Linked DNA regions of Homo sapiens: all the other regions are linked to region 1. Evidence: fine-mapped expression QTL. A gene starts in region 1. Each other region holds a variant in brackets. All regions are shown on one strand. Distances are between the middles of the regions. Region 1 holds the start of NUMBL (NUMB like endocytic adaptor protein). Region 2 has its middle 35 kb from the start of NUMBL. Region 3 overlaps NUMBL (NUMB like endocytic adaptor protein).

Evidence for each region. PIP is the estimated chance that this variant, and not a neighbour inherited with it, causes the effect.
Region 2: its variant is the best candidate, but not a certain one, in a credible set for the expression of NUMBL in whole blood (TOPMed, PIP 0.50).
Region 3: its variant is the best candidate, but not a certain one, in a credible set for the expression of NUMBL in blood mononuclear cells (TOPMed, PIP 0.79).

Annotation. Positions count from the first base shown.
Region 1 is chr19:40,686,332-40,697,157 of GRCh38, forward strand. It overlaps NUMBL (NUMB like endocytic adaptor protein), which reads right to left and starts at 4,320. Exons shown (of 10, transcript NM_004756.5): 1 at 4,129-4,320; 2 at 580-664. The coding sequence starts at 4,152. It overlaps COQ8B (coenzyme Q8B), which reads right to left. Exons shown (of 15, transcript NM_024876.4): 13 at 9,658-9,723; 14 at 6,620-6,706; 15 at 5,199-6,042. The coding sequence ends at 5,704. RefSeq lists enhancers at 1,193-1,487, 2,611-3,550, 3,224-3,273, 4,489-5,426 and silencers at 4,113-4,452, 4,773-5,012.
Region 2 is chr19:40,650,011-40,660,836 of GRCh38, forward strand. No RefSeq gene overlaps it. Among named protein-coding and RNA genes, the nearest start is that of NUMBL, 35 kb to the right of the region's middle. RefSeq lists an enhancer at 2,228-2,277. The variant C/T (reference allele first, on the strand shown) is at 5,984.
Region 3 is chr19:40,666,985-40,676,984 of GRCh38, forward strand. It overlaps NUMBL (NUMB like endocytic adaptor protein), which reads right to left. Exons shown (of 10, transcript NM_004756.5): 8 at 6,360-6,665; 9 at 2,914-3,036; 10 at 1-1,154. The coding sequence ends at 484. Among named protein-coding and RNA genes, the nearest start is that of NUMBL, 19 kb to the right of the region's middle. The variant C/T (reference allele first, on the strand shown) is at 2,501.

The DNA.
Region 1 (10,826 bases):
TTAGTACAGACAGAGTTTCTCCATGTTGGTCAGGCTGGTCTCGAACTCCTGACCTCCTGACCTCAGGTGATCCTCCCGCCTCAGCCTCCCAAAGTGCTGGGATTATAGGCATTGAGCCACCACGCCCGGCCAAGAGTGTGTCTCTTGAGAGTGTGTATCTCAGAGTCTGTATCCAGCGAGCGTCTGTGGTCACCTGTGAATCTGGGTGTTGTCTAGGAATGTGTGTGTGTGTATATATGTGTGTACATTAGTGTGATGAACATCTACTTCAGCATGTGTTCAAGTGTGTCACTGCATTAGCAAGTGTGTGTGATCTGAAAGAGATCTGTGTGTGTGTGTGTGTCTCTAACCGTATATCTACAGATGTGAGTGTTTGTGACTCTGCACTTGAGGCTGTAAGGGTGTCAGGGTGTGGGTCTGTGCATGAGTGGGGCTCTGACAGTCGCTGAGGAAGATGCCTGAGGGTGTCCACTCATGAGTGTGATTAAGCCTGTGTGACCGCAGGGACAGCTCCTCTGGTCGTGTTAGGCAAGACCACATACCCATTCAGCCCTGCCCTGTCCCAGGCTGGTCGCTCACCTGGCTCCGTCCTGCAGGTTTCTGGGGGCCCCGGGGCCCCACAGGGGGCTGGGGGCAGGTGCCGCTCAGGCCTCCGGGGTCCGCCCTGCCCGAGTAGGGGAGGAGAAGGTGAGAAGTTTGTCTGGGTTGGGGCTCAGTCTGATACTTCACCCCGACTTTGGACTTCGGCCAGCCCCCTCCATCTTGGGCTCCCTGATGAGAGTCCTAGTTGTCCTAGCAACTGTTACCAGGGAGATCAGCCACCTGGTTCCAAGGGCCCAGGAAGGAGTAGGTATGTTTGGGGGGCATATGTTGGGGATGTGCTGGCCTCAGGAGAGCCTCACTGCCCAAGGGGATGCTGTGAGAGTGGCCTTGCCCTCCAGATGCATGTGCAGGGCTACACACATACGCAGCCAACTCATATCTACAGGTGTCCCTAGCATCTGGCCACAGCTTTACACACTTGGTTACACATAGACGCAATCACAGCTACACACCTCAGATCGCAGATACACAGAAACAGTCCCAAACCCAGAAAGCTGCCACTGTAAACATCTGGCCGCATATTCATGTTCGGACACACACAGTCTCTACTACAGACATTTGTCCACATACATGCAGCATGTCCTGGCCCACTCAGTTCCCACCGCAGACACCTGGTCACACCACCCACTGAAATTTGGTCACTTCCACATTCTCAGCCACATACAAAGAACGGGGCCCAGACAACCCACTAGAGCCGCACATGCGTGGCCACACCCAGTGACAGCTATGTTTCCTCAGGCACCCGCCCAAGATACTGACGTCACAGGCCCACCCAGATAGAATCACACCCAGAGTTCACCCATTTGCTGACCCAGTCCCACACGACACAATCGCAGCTATATACACTTGTTACACGTATCTCCACTGCTGCACACTGACATCTGGTCACAGATGCACACGGACAGACACACATTTGGTCCCACGGAGACCACATGCAGCCTCAACCAGACCAGTCACACCAACACACTGTTTTTGGCCACACACTGTCACGTGGTCACACATACTCAGTCATAGGTGCTCAAATCTGGTCACAGCATCAGTCACACAGTCTATTGTGACAGCCACACTCATAGGGACAGTCCTCTATACACAACCACATACAGAGGTACTGATGGCCACAGCATGCAACCACCCACAAACAACTGTCCCCAAGGATGGCCTCCCTCAAGACACAGCCATGGTGGTCCTATAGGCATGGCCACAGCATCAATGTCCATGTGACCCAGCCACCTATCATGGTCATAATCCCGTCACCCAGTGTCCATACACAGCTGTACCATGTCACTCCAATGCAGCGAAACATATAGCCTTTCTTCATGCAGGCACACAAGTCACACAGACAAGTATGTGGCCATATAGAATCACAGCCCCGTGTGGACAGGTGCACAAAGTCACAAGCCCCACCTACACACATATCTCACACATAGAGACATAAGCACACAGTTTTAGTTTCCCATGTCACAAGTACACAGTCCAGTGTATGCACATAAATGCAGTGACCAGGATGTGGCATTTATAGCTGGGTTTACACAGAAGACACAGGTCCTGACGGAGCCATGTGCACAGTCAGGGGCCAATCTCATCACCAAATCACACATTCTAACACAGGTAGTCCAGCACATACACACAGAGACAAAAACAGGCACACAGCTACAGACCCCACACTCTCACAGATGATGACATAGACACAGACATCTATAGTCACCCAGGGTCAGACATGCAGGTCAAACACAATAATATGGAAGCCATAATCATATACACACCCCTACAAACATAATTTCCTGGCACCAGCACGGAGACACATCCACAGCTTTAGTCACACACAAATAATCCCTCTAAATAGCCAGGGTTTCAGACACCAAGTCAAATACATAACCCAAATCACACATGCAAGGCTAGAAATACACACAATCACTCGTTATCACACACACTGCTAGATACAGTCATTTATATTAATACAACCTCAGTCACACACTCAGACATGGTTCTGCATACGCAACCACTGTCATACACAATACTGTCACACAACCCCAGTCACACAGATACAATGTGACTTCAGACACAATGGCAGTCACACAGGCAGAGTTGCACAGACAGGTGTGTGTCACTCACGTATATAAAATCAGGTAGAGACACAACTATAAACATTGTCAGTCACTGGGAGGGTCACACATGCACATGGAGCCATAGACAACTCCACTCACACACAGTCACAACTCCACCCACGTCCTGTCAGTCACACGCATGCCCACCCCCAGACTCAACACATACTGTCACATACCCAGTTATAGTTACCGAGGCATACAAACACAGGGTCACAAAAGACACAATCACAGACAACCACAGTCACAACCATGCACACCTCCAAACACAGACAGACTAAAAAGTACAGGATTCTGCACAGTGAGCAGCTGTCACACACACATACACAGTCACACAGATACTAGGGTCACAGACACAATCATAGACACCACCACAAGCACACACACACGACACAGGATTCCTCAGTCACCAGCTGCAGCGTACGCGTGCACACACACACACACATACACAGCCACAGTCACACAAACACAGGGCACACTCCTAGCCACCTCCCCATCGCTTGCTTCCCCCCTTCCCCCCAGGTACCACACACAAAGCCGCCGTCACCGTCACCGCAGACACTGCAGACAGACAGGGCTGCACCCGGTCCCTGGGGAGCCGCCCCCAGCCCAGCCTGTATCCTGGAGCCTGAGGGCCAGGTCCAGGAGGGGGAAGCGGTGCATTGTCTGCGGGTGGGGCCACTCTTGGACAGCTGGGCAGCCCTGGGGACAAAGGGGGTGGCCTAGGGATCCTGTGCCCTGGGACCCATGACCAAGCCAGGGGGTGGAGGGATTGGGGGTTGCCTGAAATTGTCCTTATTTTATTCAGGCTGGGGTGGGGTGGAGTCCCAGGCACAGGGACCTTGTTTTGAGAAGTGGCTGTGCCTGGGACTCCGCCCAAGGATTGGGGGGATGCTGTGCCCAGGGTGCCTCTGAGACCTGGGGGCAGGCTGTGCTTGGAGTCCCCCTAGGCCTTGGCGTGGTGGGAACGCTGTACCCAGTGACCCCATCCTCGAGACCGTACCTAGGCAGTTGTTGTGCTGAGACCCCCTTAGGCAGGGAGAGGTAGGGATTGTGTCTGGAATCGCGTCCTGGAGGCCTTGGTTTGATACGGGGGCTGTGTCCCCGACCCCATCTCCATCCCCATCTAGTTCTAGGAGTTGTACCTAGAATCTCTGTACCCCTGTCCTTGGTTTTGTGGGGGGTCTGTGTCCAGGATCCCTATTTCCAGGGCCTTGGCAAGAGATGGCCCAGGGGTCTGTGCCCAAGACCCCGGTCTCCTGGGCTTTGGCTTGTTGGGCCTGTTCCTGGACCCCCACCCGGGACCACCCTCTCCAGCCTTGGCACCCTCTCTCCATCCGGGCGCCGCGGCCGCCTCCCACCCTCCGCCACATCAGCAGCGGCGCCGCCCCCGACCCGAGCCCCCCTCTCCCGCCCTTCTCACGCTGGCCGCCGCGCTGCGGGACATCCAGGGCCCGGGCGCCCCCGCCTCCCGCGGCCCTGGCTGGGCCTGGCTCCCCGACTGCTGCTGCTGCGGTGGTGGCGGCGGCAGCTCGGTCTGACGCCGGCCAGGGCCCGGGGCCGGGGGATGGTGCGGGATGCACGCGCGCGAGCCTCCTCGGCTCCCGGGAGGATTCCGTTCCGGGGGCGGGGGAGCGTCCCTCGGCCTCGGCTCCCCGCCCCGACCCCGCCCATTGGCCCGCCGCCTGCCGTATATGCAGAAAGGTCCCGCCCCGCCCCGCCCCTTGGCCTGAAGACCCCGCCCACACGCAGACACCATCCCGCCTTCCCCGGCGCGGCCACCGCCCCGCCACGCCCATTGGCCAGTCCCGAGCTGAGCATGCCTATGAACATCGCCGAGTCCTTTCCCCCGGTCCGTCCTGGCCTGGGCTCCCTTTCCCTCCGTGACACCTGACCTCAGATCCCCTCCAGCTCCGCGTCCGAAAGAGTTGCTTCTAGAGGCGCCTTGCCGCCCCACACCCCCAAATCTTCCCGCTAACCCCATGGTTCCCCAGCCCGGCGGGGGCGGGCAGGAGCGGTGACGAGGCACTTTTTGCAAGGAAGGGGAGGGGGTGTGAACAGACCAAGGCGTCCTGATGCGCGATCGGTTCGGCTTTGGGAACGGGGGCGCCGGGGTGGGACCAGGGCGCGGTTCTGGCCGCTACGGCGCCCCCGCCGCCCCCTACGCCAATCCTGTGGGTTTGGCAAAGCAGCTGGCAGGGACATTAGAGCCCATTAGTAAAGGCGAGGTTGCCAGGAGTGAGGGGAGGGAGCCCGCAGCCAAGAGGCACTGTGTGTGTGGGAGGCCTCAGCTGCCACAGCCCTTAGAGCAGGTGGTCAGCACGTGGGGGGGGGTGGGGAAGGCGAGAAGGAGGTTCCCGGCAACAGATGGCACAGGCAGGGCTGAGGCTTTCAGACAAGGGGGTGCAGGGGGGCTGGCCATCTGCACCTGGAGGCCGCTGGCGAGCTCCTCCCCCTCTCCCCCCAACCCTAGCGCAGAGAAAAGAGCTGGGGGAAGGGGAGGGCTGCTTTTATTCCGATTGAAGATTCAGCTCCCCCCCACCCCGCACCCCTACCTCTCCAACACACTGAGAGGCTGGAACCCGGGAGAAGGCAGCTGTTGGAGGAGCGAGGGAGGCAGAGGTGAGGACTGCCTCCAGGACCATCTCGCCTTCCACGGGAGGCTTGAGGCAGAGGTGAGGGCTCCCCCTGATGAGTCTGATCTGCATAACGACATGCAGCGGCCCAAGGCTCCCTCAAATGTTGGCAAAGATAAGTTAACCGCTTCCCTGGCTTAGTTTTCGGATACCCACTTTCGAGTGGGGAGGTGCAGGATCTAGGGCACGAAGTTGGGAGTTCCCCAGCCCCAGGGATCCTGAGCTCCTGGGCCAAGGAGGAGAGCCAGGCAAGACTGGGAAGCCCAAGGGGGCTCCTCTGACCCAGGGCAGACGGGGAAGGGATAAGAGGCACTACAGCAGGGTACGGCCTGCTCTGGGGACTGAATCCCCCATGGAGGCTGTCATGAGGGATCCACCCAGGAGTCCCCTTTGGTGGGGAGGCTGCCGGCAGTGGCTGCGTCTGGCTGGCGACTGGCCCAGTAGCGGTGGTAGGTGTCCTGGAAGAGGTCCCTGCAGGCGATGTGGGCTCGGAGGTGGGCACAGGCCAGGAAAGCCCCTGCCAGCTTGCGGTGCAGGGCATAGGTCTCCTCGGGTGGGGGACACAGCCGGTGCCGCAGCAGCACCGGGATGAGGTCCTGTATGCGGCGGGCCGTTTCCCCCGACCCAAAGTCATAAGGGCCCTGGGTGGCGAAAGGCTCCCCCAGGATCATCACTGCCTCCACGTGGGCGTCGGAGAATGCCTGGGAGTGGGGGTGGGGGGAGAGCAAAGGCAGCCAGTGTGGACATAGAGCCCTCTGCATAACCCAGAAACAACGTGTAGCCTCCACTCCCTCCAGTCTCCACCATCAACACAAGCCCCGACTCCCCCAAGAGTGAGCAGCTTCCACTCCTTCCAGAGCCTGGACTAGACAAGCAGCTGCCTATTCCCCGAGTAAGCACCCCTTACTTCCCTGCAGAGCCTCCAACAGACAAGTAGCCCTCTACTCTCTCTACAACAGAGAAGCGGCCTTCGCCCCTCCTGAACAGATCCACGGTGCCCATGTTCCCAGGGTTCCTGAGAAGTCAGGCAGCCACCTCCCCCCACTCCTCCCCAAAGCCCCCAGCATGGATAAGCATCCCTCCTAGAGTCACCCACTCCCCAGGTATAGACACACAGCCTCCATTCTCCCTAGTGGAGACAAGCCCCTCCTAGAGTCCCCCAGTCCCCGGGTATCGACATGCCCCATCACCTACTCGAGTTCCTCAGTGGAGATAAGCAGCCCCCCACTGCACCCCACCAACAGACACCAGCCCCTTTCTCCCCCAGTGTCTCCCCACCTTGGTTTCAAAGCCTGTGAGGAATTTGAGGTCCCTGGACTTCTGCAGGACACAGTCTCTGTCTCCATCAGCTGCAGCCTTCACCACCTGGGGAGACGGGTGGGAGTTAGAGGGACAAAGGCCGGGGCTCAAGGGGGCTCTGGAGAAGAGGAGCTGGAAGCCTGGGCCTCCCATGTACCCACCTCCATTCTCATCTGCCTGGGCCCTCCCTCACCTGGAAGCTTCCTGCTCCCAACTTTGCCTGTCTGTGACTCCCTTAAAGACTCTTCCAGAGCCTGGGAGTGGAGGTGGTTAGGGATCCTGCCCACCTAGAGGGCAATGTGGGGCCTGCCCGGGAACTGCCACAGTGAAACAGTGCAAGAAACAAGTGTCAGGGCTGCTGGTGAGTCCAAACACTCAACTGGACGGGTATGAGCGTGACCCAGAACTGCATCCAAAGTTGCCAGGGGCCATCTCTCTGTCTCCCACACTGGACTTTGAGCCCCGTGAGAGCAAGGATCCCAGTTGGGTTTAGTCGCACGGGGCACAGGGTCTGGTGCTGAGGAGGCCCTGGGTGAACCTTGCTTTAGCAAATGAGCGTGTGGAGCAGAGCAGCTCTCCAGCCATGAGCTCACACACACAGGGCAGGAGTTGTGGGCATGGAGAGATGCCCAGCTGGGGCCAGCTGGCTAGGGTTCCGTCCCAGCTCTGCCACCTGCCGGCCTGTTGGGCCTCCACTTTCTCATCTGTGAAGTGGGGATGCCAAAAGTGCCTTCCTCATGGGGCTGTTGGGAGGATAAAGAAGGTGATGCCTGTGGCCTGCCTGGCGCTGTGTCTCATGCAGGAAGCACCGTAAATACTATAATCTACCATTATTAAGAGGTGGGCACGGGGGTCCCTATTTCACAGAAGGGGAAGCAGACCCGGAGTAGGGAGTGGAACCGGGTCACACCACTCACTACTGGGTTGCCCTTTTTTGTGAGGAGGGGGATTCGGGATTAATTCCATTCCCTCTCTGCTCCCCCTGCCCGAGCATGTCTGGCCATCTGTCAGGCCTGTGGTCCTCAGAAGCCAGGGCTTTTATAAAGTGGCAAAGGCTGCAGGCCTGGGTGGGAGGGGAGGGTGTCAGTGGGGAGAAGAAGGGTCTCAGCTTTGTGCCTCAGTGGCCGGCAGAGAGGGCCCCAAGGGGCCTGTGTGTAAGGGGTTATCACCTCCTCTTCCTGTTCCTGTCTCAGAGGTGGCCCCACCAGTCCCCAGACCAGACCCCTAGACACCTCTGTCCCCAACTTCTAGCCCGTCTGCTCCCATGGACTGCCAGCTGGGCATCTCCCAGCCACCCCTCTGCCCCTCTCCACAGCTGCCCTGAGCTCCCACCCCCAGGCTTAGAGACCACTTCTTATTCAGAGGGAGTTTTCAAATTCTGACTGCATCCCTTCCCTGCTCAAATCTTTTCCACGGCTCCGCAGGGCACCTGGATACAGTACGAGCTGTAGAGCGCAGCCTCTAAAATCCGCAGTGATTTGCTGCAGCCTCGTCACTGTGCTGCCCCCCGACCTGCCCTCCCACTCAGAATGGGAGCTTCCTTTGGGTGCTCTAGGGCCTTACTACTACCAGTGTGGTCCCCATACGGGTAGCCCTGGCCTCACATGGGTGCGTGTCAGAACATAGCATCTTACACCCACCTCCAGACCAGAATCTGCACTTGCACAGGATCACCAGGCTTCACATGCACATCCAAGTCTGAGAAATGCTGCTCTAATGGGACTGTCCCTTATCACTGCCTCGTCTTGGCACATGTTGTCTATCTGAAATACCCTCCGAGCCTTTTCCCAGTTGGCCCCCCTCATCCCTCAGGTCTCAATGCTGACACTCCCTCCTCCGGGAAGCCCTCCTTGGCTCCCCAGGCTGGCTCAGGCTCCTCCTCTGGGCTCACAGTGCCCTGCGCTTCCCCCATCCCAGCCCTGTCCATGCTAGGTCCTCACTGTCGCCTCACTGACTATGAGTTCTGTGAGGAGGGGCCTAGGCTGGGCCCAGGTCACTGCTGTGTCTCCAGCTTTGCCTAGAATAGAGCTGGGCACAGAGGAGGGGTCAGAAAACATTTAGATTGGCTGGGCAGGAGGGCTCATGCCTGTAATCCCAGCACTTTGGGAGGCCAAGGCAGGAGGATCACCTGAGGTCAGCAGTTCGAGACCAGCCTGGGCAACATGGTGAAACCCCATCTCTACTAAAAATACAAAAATTAGCCGGGCGTGGTGGCACATGCCTGTAATCCCAGCTACTCGAGAAGCTGAGGCAGGAGAATCGCTTGAACCCAGGAGGTGGAGGTTGTGGTGAGCCAAGATCGAGCCACTGCACTCCAGCCTGGGCGACAGAGCAAGACTCTGTCTCAATTAAAAAAAAAAAAAAGAAAAGAAAAAAAAGGAAAAGAAAACGTTTAGATTGATGGCTACATGATTAGAGGACCCAGGGCAAATGTCCAATCTCAACAACGAATGAAATGGTATTCTCTGCAGCCTCTAAGACAAACTGACCCCAGTGGGTGGGAGAGACGAGCCAAGTACGTGAGGAAACACCTCCTGTAGACAGAGTTGCCCCCAGGGACACACACCTGGGCTGGACACCAGGGCCCTGGACAGCATGGGGTCTGGAGAGGTGACAAGATGGTCACTGTGGGCCTTTCTCTTAGGAGGGAGCTGGGCAGTGGTTGGAAGCTTGGGCTCTGGACCTGGACCACCTGAATTTGAATCCCAAGTCTGCTGTGATCTTGGGCACGTGACTTAACCCCTCCAGGACCCAGTTACTTCATCTGGCCTAAAACGGGCCTAAAAACGGTCCTTTTCGCATTGTGTTGCTGTGTGGTTTATATCGGTTCCTATACGTAAGCACTAAAGATGGAGCCTGACATATTAAGTGCTTGGTGTGTGCTAGTTGCTACGAGTATTACTATTATTTATTATTTCTTAATTCCAGAAACTGCATTTCGCCTTCTTACTCCTCTGCCTCAGTATATGGCTTGAGCCTCAGCCTTTCAGAGGCCCTGGGGTCTGGGGGAGACTCACCTCGATGTAATGGTCTGTGAACTCTGTCCCAAACTCCCGGCTTGCACCAAAGTCCAGCAGGGTCACCTGGAAGCAAGGAATGGTGAAAGGAATGCTGGGATCCCATTCACACCCTCACTGTCTATTGGGGCAGCCAGGATCTGTCTCCCTCCCCATGACCCTGCCTGCTCCTGCCAGAGTCCCTGCCTGGCTGCCTCACTGGGCTCCTGGCCTCATCTCCCGTTTCCAACCGACCCCCTAGCTGAAGGCTTTTTTTTCTTTTAGTTCTAATTGTTTATGCAATAACAAATTTTAGACCCAGAAAAAAAATCCAGAGAATAATAAAAGATATAGAAAAGTAAAATGAATACTCACAAATCCTGCCACCCAGCCTAAAATATAAAATACTCCCCATCCGGCCACACGTGGTGGCTCACACCTCTAACCCTAGCACTTTGGGAGGCCAAGGTGGGTGGATCATGAGGTCAGGAGTTTGAGACCAGCCTGGCCATCATGGTGAAATCCCGTCTCTACTAAAAATACAAAAATTAGCCAGGTGCGGTGGTGCGTGCCTGTAATCCCAGCTACTTGGGAGGCTGAGGCAGGAGAATGGCTTGAACCTGGGAGGTGGAGGTTGCAGTGAGCCGAGATTGTGCTATTGTACTCCAGCCTGGGCAACAGAGTGAGACTCCGTCTCAAAAAAAAAAAAAAATACTCCCCATCCACGTGGAGCCTCCTGTGTATCCCGCCCTGATCACACCTCCCCCAGGTCCCCAGGGTCACCTCTTTCCTACAATCATTATTAAATTATTTCCTGAAATTCTCATTTATGCATTTCTATATTTTCTATGTATGTGTACAGCTGTAAACAATCTAGAGTAATGGTGTGCATATTTTCAAACTTCACAGAAGTGGTATTTACTGTCGTTCTCCTGCAACTTGTGCTTTTTGCCCAGCATGGTTTTGCGATTTATCCCTGTTGCCATGTGTCGCTCCAGCTCAGTCACTCATTTCACACTGCTGTGTAAGGACTTCGTTGCGTGAATCTATCACAGTGCATTTATCTGGCTGAGGAATACTGTGGTTGTTTCTGATTTTTTTTCCTTCTTTTTAAATATGTTTATTAGTTATAAACTCTGTTCTGACATTTTTTTTTTTTTTTGAGACAGGGTCTTGATCTGTTGCCCAGG
Region 2 (10,826 bases), 36 kb before region 1:
GAAAAAAAGAAAAGAGAAAGGAGGGAGGGAAGGAAGGAAGAAAGGAAGGAACGAACAAACACAGTCACAGGAGACAAAAGAGAAAAAGTTTTTTGTATTTTTAATAGAGACCGGGTTTTACCATGTTGGCCAGGCTGGTCTTGAACTCCTGACCTCAAGTGATCTGCCTGCCTTGGCCTCCCAAAGTGCTGGGATTACAAGCGTGAGCCCCCGTGCCCGGCCAGACCCCATTTCTCCCATTTCTTTTTATCTCTCTGCTTTATCTTTTCCAGTGGAAGCTCCCAAGATGACTACCTCCAGCCTCTGGCCACAGGGAACCTTCTTCATATCCCACAAGCAAAGGAGAGCACCTTTGGCTCAGGTTTCCTGCCAAAGTAATGAGGCTAACTCTGATTGGGCCAACAGAGGGCACGTGTTCATGCAAGAGCCAATCACTGTGATCGGAGGGACAGAAGGAAAAACCATAATGGCCAGATTGGCTGAGCCAAGTCACATGTTCCTCAAATAGTAAGGTGAGTGGCTCACACTAGGGCTGCAGGAGCCACACCTGGGTTCAATTTCCATTCCAAACAAATTTCTGTCTTCTCTGCCCTGTTTCCCGTCAGTAACATAGAGATAATGAAGGCACTCATATGGTAGAGTTCCCGTGAGGATTAAATGAGTTAGTTAATGCAAAGCACTGAGAATGGTGCCCATATACAGAAAGCGTTCAAATGTTAGCTTCTGTTATCGTCATTACATGGCCATTCTCACCTCTTAAGGCTGCTTTTCTTTGCAAGCTCCTTATGCTCCACACATTTCCCTCTTTCTAGTTACTATTGCTTGGTAACAAATCACTCCAAAATATGGTGGCCCAAAACAACAACAGTCATCCTATTATTTTTCACTGTGTCTGTGGTCAGAGTTTTGGGAAGGACCCAACTGGGCAGTTCTGACTTGGAATTTCATATGGTTGCAGTCACTTGGCAGCTGAAACTGGAACAGGGAAGCAGCTGGGGGTGGATGGATCTCTCTCTCTCTCTCTTTCTCTTACTCTCTCCCCACTCCATGTTGTCTCAGGGCTTCTCAATGTGGTCTCTCCACGCGAACTGGTTTGGGCTCCCTCACATCATGACAGCCTCTGGGCAGTTGGACTTACATGGCAGCTTCGGCATCCAGTACAAGTGTTTTATGAAAGTAGCAGCCGCGACTGGGTGCGGTTGCTCACGCCTGTAATCCCAACACTTTGGGAGCTTGAGGCAGGTGGATCACCTGAGGTCGGGAGTCCAAGACCAGCCTGGAAAACATGGTGAAATCCCGTCTCTACTAAAAATACAAAAATTAGCTGGGCATGGTAGCACGGGCCTGCGGTCCCAGCTACTCAGGAGGCTGAGGCAGGAGAATCGCTTGAACCTGGGAGGCGGAGGTTGCAGTGAGCCGAGATCACGCCACTGCACTCCAGCCTGGGCGACAGAGTGAGACTCCATCGAAATGAAAGAAAGAAAGAGAAAGAGAGAAAGAGAGAAAGAAAGAAGGAAGGAAAGAAAGAAAGAGAGAGAAAGAAAGAAAGGAGGGAAGGAGGGAGGGAAGGAGGGAAGGAAGGAAGGAAGGAAGGAAAGAAGGAAAGGAAGGGGCCTTATCTCTTCTGATCTAGCCTTGGAATCATGCAGCATTACTTCTGCCACATAGTCTTGGTTACAAGCAAGTCACAAACTGCCTAGATGTAAGGGGAGCTTACACAAATTCCACTTCCCAATGGAAGGGGTATCAAAGTTCTAGAGGAATATATGGGCTGGGAAACATTGTTGCCACCATCTTTGGAAGTTACATCTGGCTTTTACTGGTACTGATTTAAGACCCACCTCTATACAGCCTGTGCCCAATAACATCCACCTGGGCACAGCTCCAACTCCCTGTTCTAAACAGAAATAGTTTATTGAGAAATCTCAATCCCTTGGGATCAAAAACATGACAGTTTCCATTTGTTCTGCAGTGACTGCTCTCTACCTGCTATCTATTGTTTTCCAAGACTATGATCCAAAATCACAGCATCCAAGACTGTGTCTTTTTTATTTATTTATTGTTTTCGAGACAGGGTCTCACTCTGTCGCCCAGACTGTAGTGCAGTGGCGCAATCTCCACTCACCGCAACCTCTGCCTCCCAGGCTCAAGAGATTCTCCTGCCTCAGCCTCCTGCGTAGCTGGGATTACAGGTGCACACCACTACTGCCTGGCTAATTTTTGAATTTTCAGTAGAGACAGGGTTTCACCATGTTGGCCAGGCTGGTCTTGAACTCCTGACCTCAAATGATCCACCCACCTTGGCCTCACAAAGTGCTGGGATTACAGGCATGAGCCACCACAGCTGGCCCCAAGACTGTGTCTTTATTATTATTATTATTTCGAGACAGAGTCTAGCTCTGTCTCCTAGGCTGGAGTGCAGTGGTGCGATCTCAGCTCACTGAAACCTTCACCTTGCCAGTTCAAGCCATTCTCGTGCCTCAGCCTCCGGAGTAGCTGGGATTACAGGCACGCACCACTACACCCGGCTAATTTTCGTATTTTCAGTAGGGACGGGGTTTCCCCATATTGGCCAGGCTGGTCTTGAACTCCTGACCTCAAGTGATCCACCCACCTCGGCCTCCCAAAGGTGGCTCACAGAAGTGAGCCACCACGCCCGGCCTGTCTATTATTTTTATTTTTAAAAATAAATGTATTGTTAATTTCCTTTTTCCTGTTGGATAAAGGCTACAGGGAAACTTAATGACAATTTTGCTAGAGTCTTTAATATTTCTCTCATTTTCATTCATTTAAAAACATAGCCTTCAGGCCAGGCACGGTGGCTCACACCTATAATCCCAGCACTTTGGGAGGCCGAGGCAGGTGGATCACTTGAGGTCAGGAGTTCAAGACCAGCCTGGCCAACATGGTGAAACCCCGTCTCTACTAAAAATACAAAAATTTAAAAATTAGCCGGGCATAGTGGCATGTGCCTGTAGTCCCAGCTACTCAGGAGGCTGAGGCAGGAGAATCACCTGAACCCAGGAGGTGGAGGTTGCAGTGAGCTGAGATCGCACCACTGCACTCCAGCCTGAGCGACAGAGTGAGACTCGGTCTCAAACAAACAAATACACAAAAAAACCCACAAAGTTCATGGGGAGGGAAAGGTGTAGCCTCTCTTGAGAACTTTCCTCTCTCATTTTCCCCCCAAACAGGATGATGCTTCCTTTCTCTTCTCTATCCTTTTCTGGACAGCCTTGGGTCCTCTCAGTAACTTATTTGGGTAAGTGGCTGGTTATAATGGCAGTGACCTCGAACTTAGGCTCTGGGGTAGTTGGCCACTTTTGTCCTCAGTTTTGGGCAGTAGTAGCAATTCTGGAAGTTCTGGGAAAAATCCAATTTGACATCATAGTACGAACCTGAAGGAAAGGTCTTGATCCCAAAGAGCTCTCGGCAGCTCATGGCTGTGACTGTCATCCAGGGCCTGGGCCTGGGGAAATGTTTGGGGATCTGTGGGATCCTTTAGGGACTGTCACAGTGACTCGGGAAATGTTGCTATAGGCAACTGTTCTGGAACTTTTTGGTCTTAGGACTCTTTTACATTCTTAATAGTATCAAGGACCCCAAACAGCTTTTATTTGTGTGGGTTATAACTTTTTTTTTTTTTTGAGATGGAGTTTCATTCTAGTCGCCCAGGCTGGAGTGCAATAGTGTGATCTTGGCTCACTGCAACCTCTGCCCCACAGGTTCAAGCAATCCTCCCACCTCAGCCTCCCGAGTAGCTGAGACTACAGGTGTGCGCCATCACGCCTGGCTAATTTTTTTGTATTTTTATTAGAGACAGGGTTTCACCGTGTCGGCCAGGCTGGTCTCCAACTCCTGACTTCAGGTCATCCATCCGCCTCGGCCTTTCAAAGTGCTGGGATTACAGGCATGAGCCACTGCGCCCGGCCTGTGTGGGTTATAGCTATTGATATTTACCATATTAGAACTTAAAACTGGCCATTTAAACAAATTTTTTATTATTGATTGATTTTTGAGACAGGGTCTCACCCTGTTGCCCAGAGTGGAGTGCAGTGGCATGATCACAGCTCACTGCAGCCTCGAACTCCTGGCCTCAAGTGATCCTCTCGCTTCAGCTTTCTGAGTGGTTGGGACTACAGGTGTGCACCACCACACCCAACTAATTTATTGATTTTTTTGTATACACAGTCTTGCTGTGTTGCCTAGGCTAAAACTGACAATATTAAAATCCAGCCATCCACAAGCACACACTGGCAGAGCAATTATGTCATCACATGTCATGGAGCCATTGTATGCTCATAAGTGAATGAGATTGAAATACGCAAAAAAAGTCCTGGAATTATTATGAAAGTAATTTTGGCCGAGCGCGGTGGCTCACGCCTGTAATCCCAGCACTTTGGGAGGCCGAGGCGGGCGGATCACGAGGTCAGGAGATCAAGACCATCCTGGCTAACATGGTGAAACCCCGTCTCTACTAAAATTACAAAAAAAAATTAGCCGGGGGTGGTGGCGGGCGCCTGTAGTCCCAGCTACTCCGGAGGCTGAGGCAGGAGAATCGCGGAGCTTGCAGTGAGCCGAGATTGCGCCATTGCACTCCAGCTTGGGCGACAGAGCAAGACTCCATCTCAAAAAAAAAAAAAAAAAAGAAAGTAATTTTAACTTTGTGGACAAAGTCTCAGGGACCTCCAGGAAACCCTGGACCAAACTTTGAAACTTGCTCTAAAAGCATTTGTAAGCCTGGGATGGTTAGGTATGTTCAACGTGCAGCCATGTAGGAGATAGTGCATGTCAAAAGGGCCCCTTTGGATGGGTTAATATCACTTTGGTTCAGTTATCTGTGGCCTGGAAGGGGTCCCTTGTGTACAAACAAAGCTGGGGAGTAGGAGGGAAGAATTTTTTTTTTTTTTTGAGACAGAGTCTTGCTCTCGTCCCCCAGGCTGGTGTGCAGGGGTGTGATCTTGGCTCACCGCAACCTCTGCCTCCCAGGTTCAAGCAATTCTCCTGCCTTAGCCTCCCTAGTAGCTGGGATTACAGGCACCTGCCACCACACTTGGCTACGTTTTGTATTTTTAGTAGAGACGGGGTTTTGCCATGTTGGCCAGGCTGGTCAACCCTGACCTCAGGTGATCCACCCTCCTTGGCCTCCCAAAGCGCAGGGATTTACAGGCGTGAGCCACTGCGCCTGGCCCAGGAGGGAGGAATCTTAACCATAATGCTCATCTTGTACTATCTACTGGAAACCCTAAAAATACAGAGACCCTGGAGCCACTTTCTGGGTTCTGCTCCCCTTCATTGCTTTCTAGCTGTGTGACTTTGGGCCAAGTTCCTTAACCACTCTGTGGCTCAGTTTCTCTTCTGGAAAATGGAGACAATAATAGTATCTGCCTCTCAGCGTTGTTATAAGAGTTACCTTGGCACACAGTGTTATGTGGGTGTTTACGCTGAGTATTACTGTTATTACAGTAATCATTCAAATCCAAGAAGCCATCAAAGGTAAGATGCATTGTTTTTTATTTTATTTTATTTTATTTTTTATTTTTATTTTGAGACAGAGTCCTGCTCTGTTGCCCAGGTGGGAGTGCAGTGGTGCGATCTCAGCTCACTACGACCTCCACCTCCCAGGTTCAAACAATTCTCCTGCTTCAGCCTCCTGAGTAGCTGGGATTACAGGTGTGCCCTACCACGCCTAAGTTTTGTATTTTTAGTAGAGATGGGGTTTCACCATGTTGGCCAGGCTGGTCTCAAACTCCTGACCTCAAGTGATTCACCCGCCTCAGCCTCCCAAAATGCTGGGATTACAAGGGTGAGCCACCACACCCAGCCAAGATGCATTGTCACTTCAAATCCCCAGGGGAGAAAAAACAGCTGCCAGTTAAACTATGACACATAATCATTTATAAGACACATCCTGATTTCCAAGTCATTGAAAAGGGGTGGGGAGGATAAATAAGTCAATTAAAAATGGTTTTATTCGGCCTGG[C/T]GTGGTGGCTTACGTCTGTAATGCCAGCACTTTGGGAGGCTGAGGTGGGTGGATCACGAGGTCAGGAAGTTCGAGACCAGCCTGGCCAACGTGGTGAAACCCCGCCTCTACTAAAAATACAAAAAATTAGCCATGCCTAGTGGCACAGGCCTGTAATCCCAGCTACTCGGGAGGCTGAGGCAAGAGAATCTCTTGAACCCAGAAGGCAGAGATTGCAGTGAGCCAAGATCGTGCCATTGCACTCCAGCCTGGGTGACAGAGCAAGACTCCATCTCGAGAAAAAAAAAAAAAAAGATGGTTTTATTCTGGAATAGGAGAGTATTTAAGGAAAGAAAATAAAAAATAAAGGAAAAAAAGAAATTTTAAAATTAAAAAAAATGATTTCATGTGTACAGAAGAATTTAGCAACAAGGATGTCCACCACAGCACTTGTCATAATGGCAAACCTGCTGAAACCCCAACCATTATGGATTAACTGCACAAGTTAAGAGAGAGCCACAAAATATTGTGACTGAAGGGGTTTTCAAAGATTGTTCCAAAACCCTGGGGATCCTCAAAAGTGAATCAATTTCTCTCTTTCATAATCTTTTTCATCTTCACTCTCCTATGAGTGCATAAAGCAAAAAATAATAAGCAGGTGACTTCTAAAAAGAAAAAACCTCTGGAAACTATGCCTCAACCCCATTCTAGAGCCTGCTGGGCCACTGCTCAGAAAAGGAAATGTGTGCCCCAGGCTGACCCACTCTTAAGACAACCCATTCTCCACATGCCTCTGCCTTCAGTTACACAGCTGTACCCAGAGAGGGGTCTTGTCTTTACTCAGCTGTCCATCCACCCTCCCTGTGTTGCAATGAATACATCCCTGGTATCTTCTGTGCCTGGCCCCAGCCCACCCCCTCCTCAGAGCTCCAGCCACACATTCCAGTGCCTTCGAGACTCACCTGCTTTGAAAGGTAGATCCTTACATTCAATTTTCTTGTTGAAATACTTCATGTGGTTTCTTTTTTCTTGACAAGCCTCTGACCAACACTTGGTGGTCATTCTTAAACCGTTGATTTTTCCCCTTCACACCTATTCCCCTCCACGATCACAATCTTCCCAGTCTCAAAAATGTCTCTACCTGGGACCTCAAGCCAGAAACCCAGGCAATATGGAGGCACTTCCTCTCCTCATTCCACATATGCCACTCATGGACAATTCCTGCTTTCCTCTAAGGCAGATGCTTACCACACCCCTACCCCCACCCTTCTATTTAGAAAATTTCTAAACATGCAAAAGAATTGCAAGAAAAGTAGAAGATATAATAATATACTGTGGATATGGATTCACTAGGTTTTTGCAGTTTTTTGTTTGTTTTTGTTTTGAGACGGAGTCTTGCTCTGTCACCCAGGCTGGAGTGCAATGGTGCGATCTCAGTGCAAGCTCTGCCTCCCAGGTTCAAGCAATTCTCCCTGCTTCAACCTTCCAAGTAGCTGGGATTACAGGCACCCACCACCATGCCCAGCTAATTTTTGTATTTTTCAGTGGAGATAGGGTTTTGTTACGTTGGCCAGCTGGTCTTGACCTCCTGACCTCAGGTGATCCGCCTGCCTTGGCCTCCCAAAGTGCTGGATTACAGGCGTGAACCGTCACACCTGGCCTTTTGTGTTTTTGTTTTTGTTTTGGTTTGTGTGTGTGTGTTTGTTTGTTTGTTTTTGAGATGGGGTTTCACTCTGTTGCCCAGGCTGGAGTGCAGTGGTGTGATCACAGCTCACTACAGCCTCAACCTGCTAGGCTCAAGCGATCCTCCCTTCTAAGCCTCTTGAGTAGCTGAGACTGCAGGTGCCCACCACCACACCCAGCTAATTTTTGTATTTTTTGTAGAGACGGGTTTTCACCATGTTGCCCAGGCTGTTCTCAAACTCCTGGGCTCAAGTGATTCCCCCCACCTTGGCCTCCCAAAGTGCTTGGATTACAAACGTGAGCCACTGTGCTGGGCCTATTTCTTTGTGTTTTAAGAGGCAGGGTCTTTCTCTGTTGCCCAGGTGGAGTACGATGATTCGATCATAGCTCACTGCAGCCTCAAACTCCTAGGCACGGGAGACCCTCCTGCATCAGCCTCCCGAGTAGCCCAGACTACAGGTGTGTGCCACTATACCTAGCTAATGAAAAGAATTTTTTTGTAGACATGAGTTCTTGCTATGTTGTCTAGGCTGGTCTGGAACCTCCAGCCTCAGGCGATCCCCTTGCTTCAGTCTTCCAAAGCAGTGGGGTTACAGGCGTGAACCACCTGGCCTGGTCTCGCTCTTTCTCTTTCGACATCTACATTGATCTGTAGCTATCTACGTACTATAGATATCTAAAAGTTATGTAAATGTCTACTTAAGCTTATAGGTATGAGCTACTGTATGCTATCTAAGCTTATAGGTATGAGCTACAAATTGCTATTGTGTTATGAGGGGAATTCAAAAAGTTGATGGAGAATGGAATTAAGAGATAAAAATTTTAAAAAAATCTTTATTTCTCACCATAAACTCCATCAAGGTCAAAGTCAAGACACTTTTGTAAACCATTATACCAGCCATTTAGTCTATCCCTAAATAACTGAGGGTCCCAGGAATTTAATCATGTCAGTGCAGCCTTTTTACATTTTCTCTTTCTTTTTTTTTTTGATGGAATCTCACTCTGTTGCTCAGGCTGGAGTGCAGTGGTATGATCTCGGCTCACTGCAACCTCTGCCTCCCGGGTTCAAGCCATTCTCCTGCCTCAGCCTCCTGAGTAGCTGGGACTACAGGCATGTACCACCACATCTGGCTAATTTTTTTTTTTTTAGTAGAGACGAGGTTTTGCCAAGTTGGCCGGGCTGGTCTCAAACTCCTAACTTCAGGTGATCTGCCCGCCTCGGCCTCCCAAAGTGCTAGCATTACAGTTGTGAGCCACTGTGCCAGGCCTTTTTTTTTTGTTCTTGTTGCCCAGGCTGGAGTGCAGTGGCATGATCTCGGCTCACTGCAACCTCCACCTCCTGGGTTCAAGTGATTCTCCTGCCTCAGCCTCCCGACTAGCTGGGATTACAGTCATGAGCCACCACACCTGGCTAATTTTTGTATTTTTTTTTTTAGTAGAGACAGGGTTTTGCCATGTTGGTCAGGCTGGTCTTGAACTCCCAACCTCAGGTGATCCACCCTCCTTGGCCTCCCAAAATGCTAAGATTACAGGCGTGAGCCACTCCGCCCAGCCCAGTCTTTTTACATTCTTAACTGAAGAAAAATGGGTGCCCTTCAAAGATTTTAAGATTAGGAAACAAAAAGTCAGAAGGAGCCAAATTGGGACTGCCAAGTGGATGCCTAATAATTTCCCATCAAAACTTGTAAAATTGCTCGTTTGATGAGGAGAATGAGCAGAAGCGTAGACATGCTGGAGAAGAACTCTCTGGTGAAGCTTCCCAGGCTTATTTCTACTAAAGCTTCGGCTAACTTTCTCAAAACACTCTCATAATAAGCAGATCTTATTATTCTTTGACCCTACAGAAAGTCAACCAGCAAAATGCCTTGAGCATCCCCAAAAACTGTTGCTATGACCTTTGCTCTTGACCAGTGTGCTTCTGCCTTGACTGGATCACTTCCCCGCTCTTGGCAATCATTCTCTGATTACGATTTGTCTTTAGGATTGCACCCGTGAAACCATGTATCATTTCCCGTTACAATCCTTCAAGGAAATGCATTAGGATCTCGATCTCACTTGTTTAGCATGTCCATGGAAAGCTCTGCTCTTCTCTGCAGCTGATCTGGGTGCGACCGTTCTGGCACCCATCGAGTGGAAAGTTTGTTTAGCTTTAATTTCAGTCAGAATTGTGTAAGCTGAGGCCGGGTGAGGTGGCTCAAGCCTGTAATCCCAGCAGTTCGGGAGAATGAGGCAGGAGGATCACTTGTGTCCAGGAGTTCAAGACCAGCCTGGGAAACCTAATGAGACCCCCATCTCTACAAAAAATACGAAAATTTAGTGTCAGGCCTCTGAGCCCAAGCTAAGCCATCATATCGCCTGTGACCTGCACGTATACATCCAGGTGGCCTGAAGCAACTGAAGAGCCACAAAAGAAGTGAAAATAGCCTTAACTGATGACATTCCACCATTGTGATTTGTTTCTGCCCCACCCTAATGATCAATGTACTTTGTAATCTCCCCCACCCTTAAGAAGTTTCTTTGTAATTCTTCCCATCCTTGAGAATGAACTTTGTGAGATCCGCCCCCTGCCCGCAAAACATTGCTCCAAACTCCACCGCCTATCCCAAAACCTATAAGAATTAATCATAATCCCACCACCCTTTGCTGACTCTCTTTTTGGACTCAGCCTGCCTGCACCCAGGTGAAATAAACAGCCTTGTTGCTCACACAAAGCCTGTTTGGTGGTCTCTTCACAGGGACGCGTGTGACACTTAGCTGAACGTGCTGGCACGCACCTGTAGTTCCAACTACTTCGGAGGCTGAGGTGGAAGGATCGCTTGAGCCCAGGAGGTTGAGGCTGCAGTGAGCCACAATCTCACCACTGTACTCAGCCTGGGCGACAGTATGAGAACCCTGTCTCAAAAAAAAAAAAAAAAAAAAAGAAAAAAGAATTGTGTAAGCTGTACCAATTGAGATGTCTATGGTGTTGGCTATTGTTTCTGCTGTTAACTGTAAGTCCTCTTTAATTAAGGCATAAACAAATTTAATTTTTTTCTGCAAAAATTGATGTGGATGGTATGCCACGGTGGGCTTCATCTTCAGCATGACCCAGGCTGGAGTGCAGTGGCGCAATCACGGCTCACTGCAACCTCTACCTCCCAGACTCAAGTGATCCTCCCACCTCAGCCTCCTGAGTAGCTGG
Region 3 (10,000 bases), 20 kb before region 1:
CAGCGTGTGGGCAGAGGGCAGCCCTTAGCTTGTGCTGTGCATGGGGGGAGGAGACGACCAGATTTGGGGTGGGCACTGGTGTGGGGCCCAGGAGAGCCCCTAAGCAAGTGTCCCCCCTCCATCCTGTCCAACACTGGAAGGTGGGGGTCAACAGAAACTGGGAAATGGAGTGTGAACCAAGGGCATTCAGTGGGATTGTGGCCAACCCCTGTGTCTGGGGTTGGGGAAGGGGGCATTGCCAGCCTAAGTCCGGCAGTGAAATGGTTCCCTTAGCCAGGCTGGGTCCGTCCCTGAATTCCATCCTGTTGCAACCTGGGCGTCACAATGTTGGTTCTGTAGTGGTTGTCGGGGTGGTTGAGGGAGGGGGGTGTTGAGAGGGTGTTGAGGGGCGCAGCCCCAGGGAGCAGGGTTAGGGGAGAGGTTGTGCCTCCACCCCCAGGCGTGGGGCACCTGGAGATGATGGAGTGGGTGGGGCGGCTCGGGCTACAGTTCAATCTCGAATGTCTTTTGCAGGTCGCCAGAAAAGGGGTTGGAGGGTTTCTCTACAGTGGCTTTGCCTTCTAATGCCGCCCACTGGGCCTCAAAGGGGTCCAACTCTGGAGCTGGGGCAGGCGCTGGCTCAGGGGGCCAGGGGGCCCCATTGGGGCGAGGGCGGGCCTGGCTCCCAGGGGCACTGGGTATGGCAGGGGGCGGGAAGGCCCCAGCTTTCCCAAGCAGAGTGGCAGGCTGAGGCTGGAGCTGGGCGGCTGAGCAGAAGGCGTTTGCCACCATCTGTGAGGGTGTGATGCCCACCACGGGCACCCGGGGCATCGGTGGGTAGCCCAAGCCCGGGTAGGCGGGCACAAAAGGGGGCTGCATGTGTGGGGGTGGCAGGAACACGGCCACTTGGGCAGGTGCAGCGTCAAAGGGCCCCACGGGGGCGGGGAAAGGCTGCAGGGCAGGAGGCATGGTGGGCACTGGGGCCACTGAGGCTGCTTGCTGCTGTTGCTGCTGCTGCTGCTGCTGCTGTTGCTGTTGCTGCTGCTGCTGCTGCTGGGCCTTGGCCACCTGTGACACCTCCTCCAGCCATCGCTCAGCCTCTGAAGGTGTCCGCTTGTGCCCAGGCTGGAAGGCAGCTGCAGGGGGCACGGAGGGCTCACCCCAGGCAGAAGTCCCTGGAGAGAGGAGAGGGACAGGTGAGGGAGGGGGCAACGGCTTCAGCAGAAGAACCCCAGGCTGGGAACTGGCATGGTGTGGGGATCAGAGCACGGACTCTGGAGCCAGACCGCCTGCCTCTGAATCCCAGCTCTGCACCTCCCGAGCTTGCTGACTTCAGGCGAGTGACTTCACCATTCTGGACCACGTAATGGTTCTGGAGTGCTAAGAACATACAATTCTGAGCTTCTAAGGCCCTATGATGAGAAAGTCTAAGTAGGACTGACATCCTCCTAGCCCCACTACCCTTCTGACTGGTCAGTGCCAAGCCTAGGATTCACTATTTTGTTTTGTTTGTTGTCTGTTCGTTTTGAGAGTCTCACTCTGTTGCCCAGGGATGCCCTATCTGGGCTCACTGCAACCTCTGCCTCCCAGGTTCAAGCAATTCTCGTGCCTCAGTCTCCTGAGTAGCTGGGATTACAGGCGCGCACCATTACGCCCGGCTGATTTTTTGTATTTTTAGTAGAGGCGAGGTTTCAACATGTTGCCCAGGCTGGACTCGAACTCCTACCTCAAGTAATCCCCCTGCCTCGGCTTCCCAAAGTACTAGGATTACAGGCATGAGCCACCACACCCAGCTGGTATTCACTATTTTGAATATCACCCTTGATTTTCTAATACCTTCAGAATGTATTGTTTTAGGAGTTAAGATTCTAAGATTGCATGGATCTTTCTCCACATGTATAATAGTATCCTAACATAGTAAGGTTTGACAGTTTAGGGTTGGGCTTTCTAAGATTCTCGAGTTCTACATTTACAGTGTTTGAGATTCTAAGGTGCACCTGTGGTTCTAGGATAAGCCCATGGCTCTAAGATGATACATGGTTCTCAAGGATTCCATGGTTCTGAAACGATCTCTGGGCTCTAAGGTGATCCCAAGATTCTAGCATGAGCACATGCCTCTGAGGTGACCCCGTGGCTCTACAATGATCCCGTATCTCTAAGATAATTCATGGTTCTAAAGTGATCACTTGATTCTCAGGTAATCCCACGGCTCTAAGATGATCCTTGGTTCTAGGATGATCCTCTGGTTCTAAGATGATCTGTGTTTCTAAGGTGATCCTATGGCTCTAAGATGATCCATAGTTCTAGGATGATCCCATGGTTCTAAGGGGATCCCGTGGCTCTAAAATGATCAAGGGCTCTGAGATGATCCATGGCTCTAAGGTGATCACATGATTCTCAGATAATTCCATGGCTCTAAGATGATCCATGGTTCTAGGATAATCCCCTGGCTCTAAGATGATCCCTGGGTCTAAGGTGATCACATGATTCTTAGGTAATCCCATGGCTCTAAGATGAACCA[C/T]GGATCTAGGATGATCCCCTGGCTCTAAGATGATCCATGGCTCTAAGATGATCACACGATTCTCAGATAATCCCATGGTTCTAGGCTGATCCCCTGGCTCTAAGATGATCCCTGCTTTTAAGGTGATTGCATGATTCTCAGGTAATCCCGTGGCTCTAAGATGATCCATGGATCTAGGATGATCCCCTGGCTCTAAGATGATCCATGGTTCTAAAGTAATCGCATGATTCTCAGGTAATCCCATGGCTCTAAGATGATCCATGGTTGTAGGATGATCCCCTGGCTCTGAGGTGATCCATGGTTCTAAGCCTGTAGGATCCCAAGACCCCTGGAGTGTCTGGGTAGCCCTGGATAGAGGAGGGGATACAGGAGGGACATGCAGGGTGTCTGCCCAGCAGAAAGCCTGGCTTTACCTGTTGTGGCAGGTGGTGGCCCTGGTGCTGGCGCTCCAGCACTGGCAAAAGATGAACTGATCTGTGTGCACAGAGCGTTGATGCTGTCACTGTCGCCGGCACCAGGAGGCTCCATCTCAGGCACTGGGAAGCAGGGCAGGACAGAGGTCAGCAAACAGGCCCAGACCCTGCCGCAGCCCCGCCCTCTACCCCCCGCCCTCGGTGGCCCTCTCTTCTGACCTGGATCCTTTCCCACTGTAGTAACTAAGTGGCCATGACCGCCAAATAACTGTGCATATGTGTGTGTCACATCTGAGCGGCAGAACGACTGAGTTAGTGTGTGACATTTGACGGCTGACAGTAACAGGGACCCCAAACCAAGGACCTCAAGATTTGTGTGTGGCCACAAACCAGAAGAGTTGTCTAAAACACTTAGCAACATATATTAGTTTAAAAATATGCCCAACCACGTGCATGGCAAGGACATGGGCCCAGTCTGAATGGGCTGTGGCATGGCCGCTCACTGGCTGGGGATCATTTGTCCAGCTTTGGGCAGAGAAGTGGGGTCCTGTCCACCCCACCCAGGCTGATCTATGGCAAACATCATGAGAGCAGAGATACACCTGTGCCAGCAAGGCAGGAGACACTGAGCAGGCATGGCGGCCCCGTGAGGGCTTGTGATGAGCAAAGGTACCATCCAAATAAACAATTAAGGACTCCCATGTGTGGTGTGTGACACATGTCTGTGATGTTTTAGCCAATGGCTGTCTCCAAGGGACCATGTAGATGCTCCAGTGAACATCAGAACTGGCCGTAGGAGTCTGCAGGTGTGCTGCGGGGGCGCCCGGGTGGGACAGCCAATGTCGACAATGATTGTGCATGTTCGTCCAAACAGGAATGCAGCTTCTGAGAGTGTGACTGGGGTCCGGGTGTGTGGCGTCCTGATGCGTGACTCCCAGGTGTGAGTGCATCTGCCGTGTGATGTATGAGTGTGTTTGCAGGTGTGCATGGATCTGCACATGTGGCTTTGGAGTTTGCATAAATCTGGGTGTGTGGTCTGTGAAGGTGTGTAAATCTGAGTGTGTTTCTTTTTTAAAAATATTTATTTATTTATTTTTGACACAGGGTCTCGCTCTGTTGCCCAGGCTGGAGTGTAGTGGCACAATCTTAGTTCACTGCAACCTCCGCCTCCCAGGCTCAAGCAATCTTCCTGAGTAGCTGGGACTACAGGTGCATGCCACTGCACCTGGTTAACAATAAAGGTTAATTTTTAAAATTTTTTTGTGGAGATGAGATCTTGCTGTGGTGCCCAGGCTGGTCTCAAACTCCTGAGCTCAAGTGATCCTCCTGCCTCAGCCTCCCAAAGTGCTGGGATTACAGGTGTGAGCCACCACGTCTGGCCATGTGTGACTTCTGACTCTGTGATTTTGGAGTGTGTGTGACTTGAGAGTATACCTGACTGTGAGTTTGTGACTTCTGAGCATGTGTGACATGTGTGTGGGGGGGTGCAATGTCTATGTGAGTATGTGAAATTTCTGTGTGGCAAGTCACATCCAAATAAGCGTGCAGCTGGCCACAGGAGTGTGAGGCTTCCAAATAAAGCCTGGAGCTCCTGCCACCTCTCAGGAGCACGTGTGACAGCCTGGGGAGTGTGCCTGATGTCAGGCTGCGTTAAGGACAGCAAATGTGAGGGTGTGTGATGGCCCAGGAATGCTGCAGGCATGGAGGGAGCGTGCGTCACTCTCAACAAGGGTTGGCATCTGCTCACCGGTTACCTTTTGGAGCAGCCCAGCCTCCTGGATACAGCTCAACACCCTCCCACATCAATCCCCGAGGACATAACGGGTAGGCGATGCAGATTTGGCATCCAGGAGCAAGAGAGTGGGCCAGACCACATGGGTTCACTGGCTGCTGGTGGGGAAGACAGCCCTTCTGCCTGCCTCCCTCAGGCAAAAACTCAGTAGCGTGCCACCTCTATCTTCCTTCCCTATGGCAGAGATTGCTCTTAATTTTTTTTTTTTTGAGACAGGTTCTCACTCTGTTGCCCAGGCTGGAGTGAAGTGGCGCAATCTTAGCTCACTGCAGCTGGGCTGAAGCAATTCTCCTTCCTCAGCCTCCTGAGTAGCTGAGACTACAGGCATGCGCCACCACACCAGGCTAGTTTTTGTATTTTTTTGTAGAGACAGGGTTTAGCCAAGTGATCTGCCTCAAGGGATCCTTGAGCCCCTCTTGGGCTCAAGTGATCTGCCTGCCTTGGCCTCCCAAAGTGCTGAGACCACAGGCATGAGCCACTGCACTTGGCTAGACATCACTTTTAGATCATGATGTACACCACCTGTCTCCTTTCCCTGGCCCATGGCAGACATTAGTAATCAAACACAATGCTTTTTTCCCCCACGGAGCTCTTTGCTCACCTTACCCGTCACCTGTCCAGACCTCATGGCTCCCCTGGCCAAGTGCTAGAAGAAACAGATCCTTGTAACTCCATCTTCCCTCCAAGTAAAACAGGACCTTTATATCTCCTCTCTCTTACCACCAGCCATGGCAGACAATGCCAATCAATTATGATGTGCTGCTCCTTTTCGTGATGGGTACTGCCTCTGCTCAACTCTGTGCCTACAACAAATGTTCCTGATCCATCACTATGCCCCTGACCCCTGGGATCTCTGAGCTCACTGGTGCCCTGCATGTCATGTTTCTACTGACCAAATTCTGGGAGTCTCCCCTTTGGGTAAAAACATAACACTCTTGCTACTCTTTCTTCTCCCTTGCCCATGACACACACTGCATGGAGATCATGACTGCTAACCGATCATGATGTGTGCCATCTTTCTCGTTTCCCTTAACCACAGCAGACATTGCTAATTGATCATGACTTGTGATGCCTTTTTTGCCATCCCTTGATGCTCCCTGCCCTAGGCAGACATTTCTAATCCATCACAATCCTCCTTTCCTCAGAGCCTGAGGAATACCTGTATCCTTCACCTAGCCAGATCTCATAGGTGAATGCTTGGAGGGAGGGAGCATTAACCTGTAGTGCTTCAGTCTACTCCTGAGCAAAAACAGGCCAATGGTGTTGCTTCTCTTCTTTCCCTGGCCCATGGCAAACTTCCTTATCCATGCCCGACTTCTTTGTCCATAGCCGACTTTGCTAACTAATCATGATGTGTGTCATCTTTCTCCTTTTCCTTAACCACACCAGACATTGCTAACTGATCATAACTTGTGATGCCTTTCTACTATCCCTTACTCAGAGCAGACACGGCTTATCAATCCTGATTTGTGCTATCTCTTTCCTCTCCCTTGCCCACTGCTAATCGATCATGACATGTTCCCACTCTCTCTCCTTTGCCCATGGCAGACAGTGCAAATCAATCACAGTGTGAACCATCTCGCCTCCATCCCTTGCCCACATCAGATAGTGCCAATTGATTCCAACGCCGTTTCCCACTGGGCCCAGGGCTCACCTGTGCCCTTCACCTGGAAGTCAGTGCGGCGCTGCAGCGTGGATGGCAGCTCATTCAGCCGTAGGCTCAGCTGCCGTTTGAAAGGCGAGTTCTTCTGGCTGAGTGCTGGGAACCCACGGAAGGAGCCCTGGCGAACCAGCTGCTCCAGGGGTGCATGGCGCCGGGGGATGGCGGCCGCAGTGGTGCCTGCAGCCACAGGGGTGCCTGCCTCACCCTTCTCACCAGGGGATGTGGTGGCTGGTGTCGGGGACACGTGCCCAGGCTGGGCAGGGCCAGGAGCCACAGTGGGGGCAGCTGCTGCCTCTGCTGGAGACATGGGGGAGATGGATGGTTAGATATCTCACCATGGCATGCAAGGCCTCTCCCACCTGGTTCTCTTGATCATTCTCCAAGGCTGCCTTCCTTGCCCAGTGAGTCCTGCCCTTAAGACAAGCTAGTCAAAGCCCTGAGATATCCCTCACCCCCACCCAAGTCATGATCCCCTTCCCCAGGAGGCTCTTGGAAAACCGTCCCCCAGGCTCACCCTCTGTGTCTCTCCAGCTTCCTGCCCCTTTCTGTCTTGCCCTGCTGCTCTCACCATTCTTCCCTCTAAGACCCTCTATCTCCCTTTTTGATCACTTAACAAACACTGATTTGGTGCTGGAACAACGTATCAGGCATTGTTCCAGATGCTTTTCAAGTATTCACTCATTCAATCCACACGACTACCCATGGGGTTGATATGATTCTCATTTTACAGATGTGGAAACTGAGACCCAGCAAAGGCCCAGTGTGATGTGCCCAAGTCCTACTGCTAGGAAGGGGCAGGCTGACTCTGGACCCCATGCTCCAAATGACTGCCCGCCCTGTCTCCCTCTGACCTGTCTCTCCATATCATGTTGTCTTTCTCTGTCACTGTCTGTTCCCCTCTGTCTCCCACCTCCCAGCCTTCTTCCCACCTCAAGTAGCTCCTCCCTTCCTCCAGTCATTCTAGACATGGCTTGGATGCTTCATCCTCTGAGAAGCTTTCCAGATTGTTCCAGGCTCTCAGCCTGGCTCCCTCCACTCTGAGACTGTTCTCTGTACTCTGGGAGGAAACCTGACCTCCCCACTCAGCAGGAGAGGCAGGCTCTTCAAGGGCAGGGCTGCCCTCACCCCTGCCAAACCACAAACACACATCTACCCTCCTACCAGGGCCTCCCCGAGCTGCAGCCTGAATGCCATGGAGATTAAACTCAGGCCCAGAGAGACCCTCCCATAAGGATGTCGCCCAGTGCTGCTTCTCCCATCGTGACACAATGGGGCACCCATGCAGGCCTGGCCCAAGGCAGTGGAAACAGCCCAGGACAGGTTGGAACCAGGAAACCTCCTCTGCCTCCACTCACTGTGTGACCTCAGGAAGTCCCCTCCCCTCTCTGGGCTCCAGTTTGCCAACTAGAAACCTGGGATAAACATCTCAGTGCTACCTCCCAAGCCTCTGAGAGGGTCAGTTTAGGTAGTGAATGTTAAATGTTTTGGAATCCAACAAAAGCATGCCTGGACACAGTGGTTCACGCCTGTAATCCCAGCACTTTGAGAGGCCAAGGTGGGGGGATCAGTTGAAGCCAGGAGTTCAAGACCAGCCTTGCCAACATGGTGAAACACCATCTCTACTAAAAATACAAAAAAAGATTAGCTGGGTGTGGTGGCACACGCCTGGGATTCCAGCTACTCTGGAGGCTGAGGCAGGAGAATCGCTTGAACCCGGGAGGCAGAGGTTGCAGTGAGCCGAGATCGCACCATTGCACTCCAGCCTGGGCAACAGAGCAAGACTCTGTCTCAAAAAAAAAAAAAAAAAAAAAAAAAAAACTTAGCTGGACGTGGTGGCGGGCACCTGTAATCCCAGCTACTCAGGAGGCTGAGGCACATAAATGTCTTGAAACCAGGAGGCAGAGGTTGCAGTGAGCTGAGATGGCACTACTGCATTCCAGCCTGGGTGACGGAGAGAGACTCTGTCTCAAAAAAAAGATGTTCTTTTTTTTCCCCTTACAATCCAGGATCTAATTCAGGATCACATCTCGCATCTATTAATACCTGTTAAACCTCATTAGTCTCCCTTAATCAGGATCAGTTCCCAATGGTAAATTCTTTGTAAATTCTAAGTAGTGTTTTCCCAAAGAACTTAAATTCACAGTAAAATAAATAAATAAATTAATTAATTAATAAATAAATTAATTATATGGTGACTCAGGACATACATACAATTATATTTTAAACACACACACACACACACACACACACACACACACACACAGAGTTTTAGAACTTACAAAGTATTTAACCATTTACCTAGAAAGTTAGTTTTACCAAGTATGTTTCAAACTTTCTTGATGGCAATCCAGAGTTAAGAGATATCTTTTATATGGTAGCCTCTTACACACGCGTGCACACACACACACACTCTCTCTCTCAAATAAAAGTATCATTAAATTATATTTAACCCTTATGCCATTCAATATACTCTGATATTTTCTATGATTCTCTATTTCATTGTTTTTAAATTAATTTTTTTTTTTTTGAGACAGGGTCTCACTCTGTCTGTCACCCAGGTTGGAGTGTGGTGGTGCAATCGCAGCTCTCTGCAGCCTCTACCTCCTGGGCCCAGGTGATCCTCCTGCCTCAGCCTCCTGAGGAGCTGGGACCACAGGTTGCACCACCACGCCTGGCTAATTTTTTAATGATTTGTAGAGACAGGGTTTCCCTATGTTGCCCAGGTTGATTTCATTTTTTTAAATGTCAGCCACATGGGCTGGGCCCAGTTGTCCACACCTATAATACCAGTGCTTTGGGAGGCTGAGGTGGGAGGATCGTTTGAGGCCAGGAGTTTGAGACCAGCCTGGGAAACACAGCAAGATCCCAGTTCTACAAAATATAAAAATAAAATTAGCCAGATGCTGTGGCTTGTGCCTATATTCCCAGCTACATGGAGGCTGAGGCAGGAGGATTACTTGAGCCCAGCAGTTTGAGGCTGCAGGGAGCTGTGATCGCACCACTGCACTCCAGCCTGGGCAACAGAATTAGACCTCAACTCAGACAACAAAACAAAACAAAAAATGCCAGCCACAGTACAGCAAATTGGCTTCCCAGGTCTTAATACACAGGTTGAAAAGCCCTGAGAAGGCCAGGCGCGGTGGCTCACCTGAGGTCAGGAGTTGAGGCCAACATGGTGAAACCCCATCTCTACTAAAAATACAAAAATTAGCCATGCCTGTAATCCTAACTACTCGGGAGGCTGAGGCAGAATTGCTTGAACCCGGGAGGTGGAGGTTGCAGTGAGCCTAGATCACACCATTGCACTCCAGCCTGGTTGACAGAGCGAGACTCCGTCTCAAAAAAAAAAAAAAACAAACAAAAAAAGAAAAGCCTCGAAAAGCCCCGAATTGGTGGATAGTAAACCACTTGGTGCGCCCTTAGAATATTGCCCAGAGAACTCTTTCCATGGAAGTTGCTTTATTTATTTATTTATTTTTTGAGACAGAGTCTCACTCTATTGCCCAGGCTGGAGTGCAGTGGCGTGATCTCGGCTCACTGCAACCTCTGCCTCCAGGGTTCCAGCGATCCTCCTGCCTCAGCCTCCCAAGTAGTTGGGATTACAGGCGTAGGCCACCATGCCCAGTTAATTT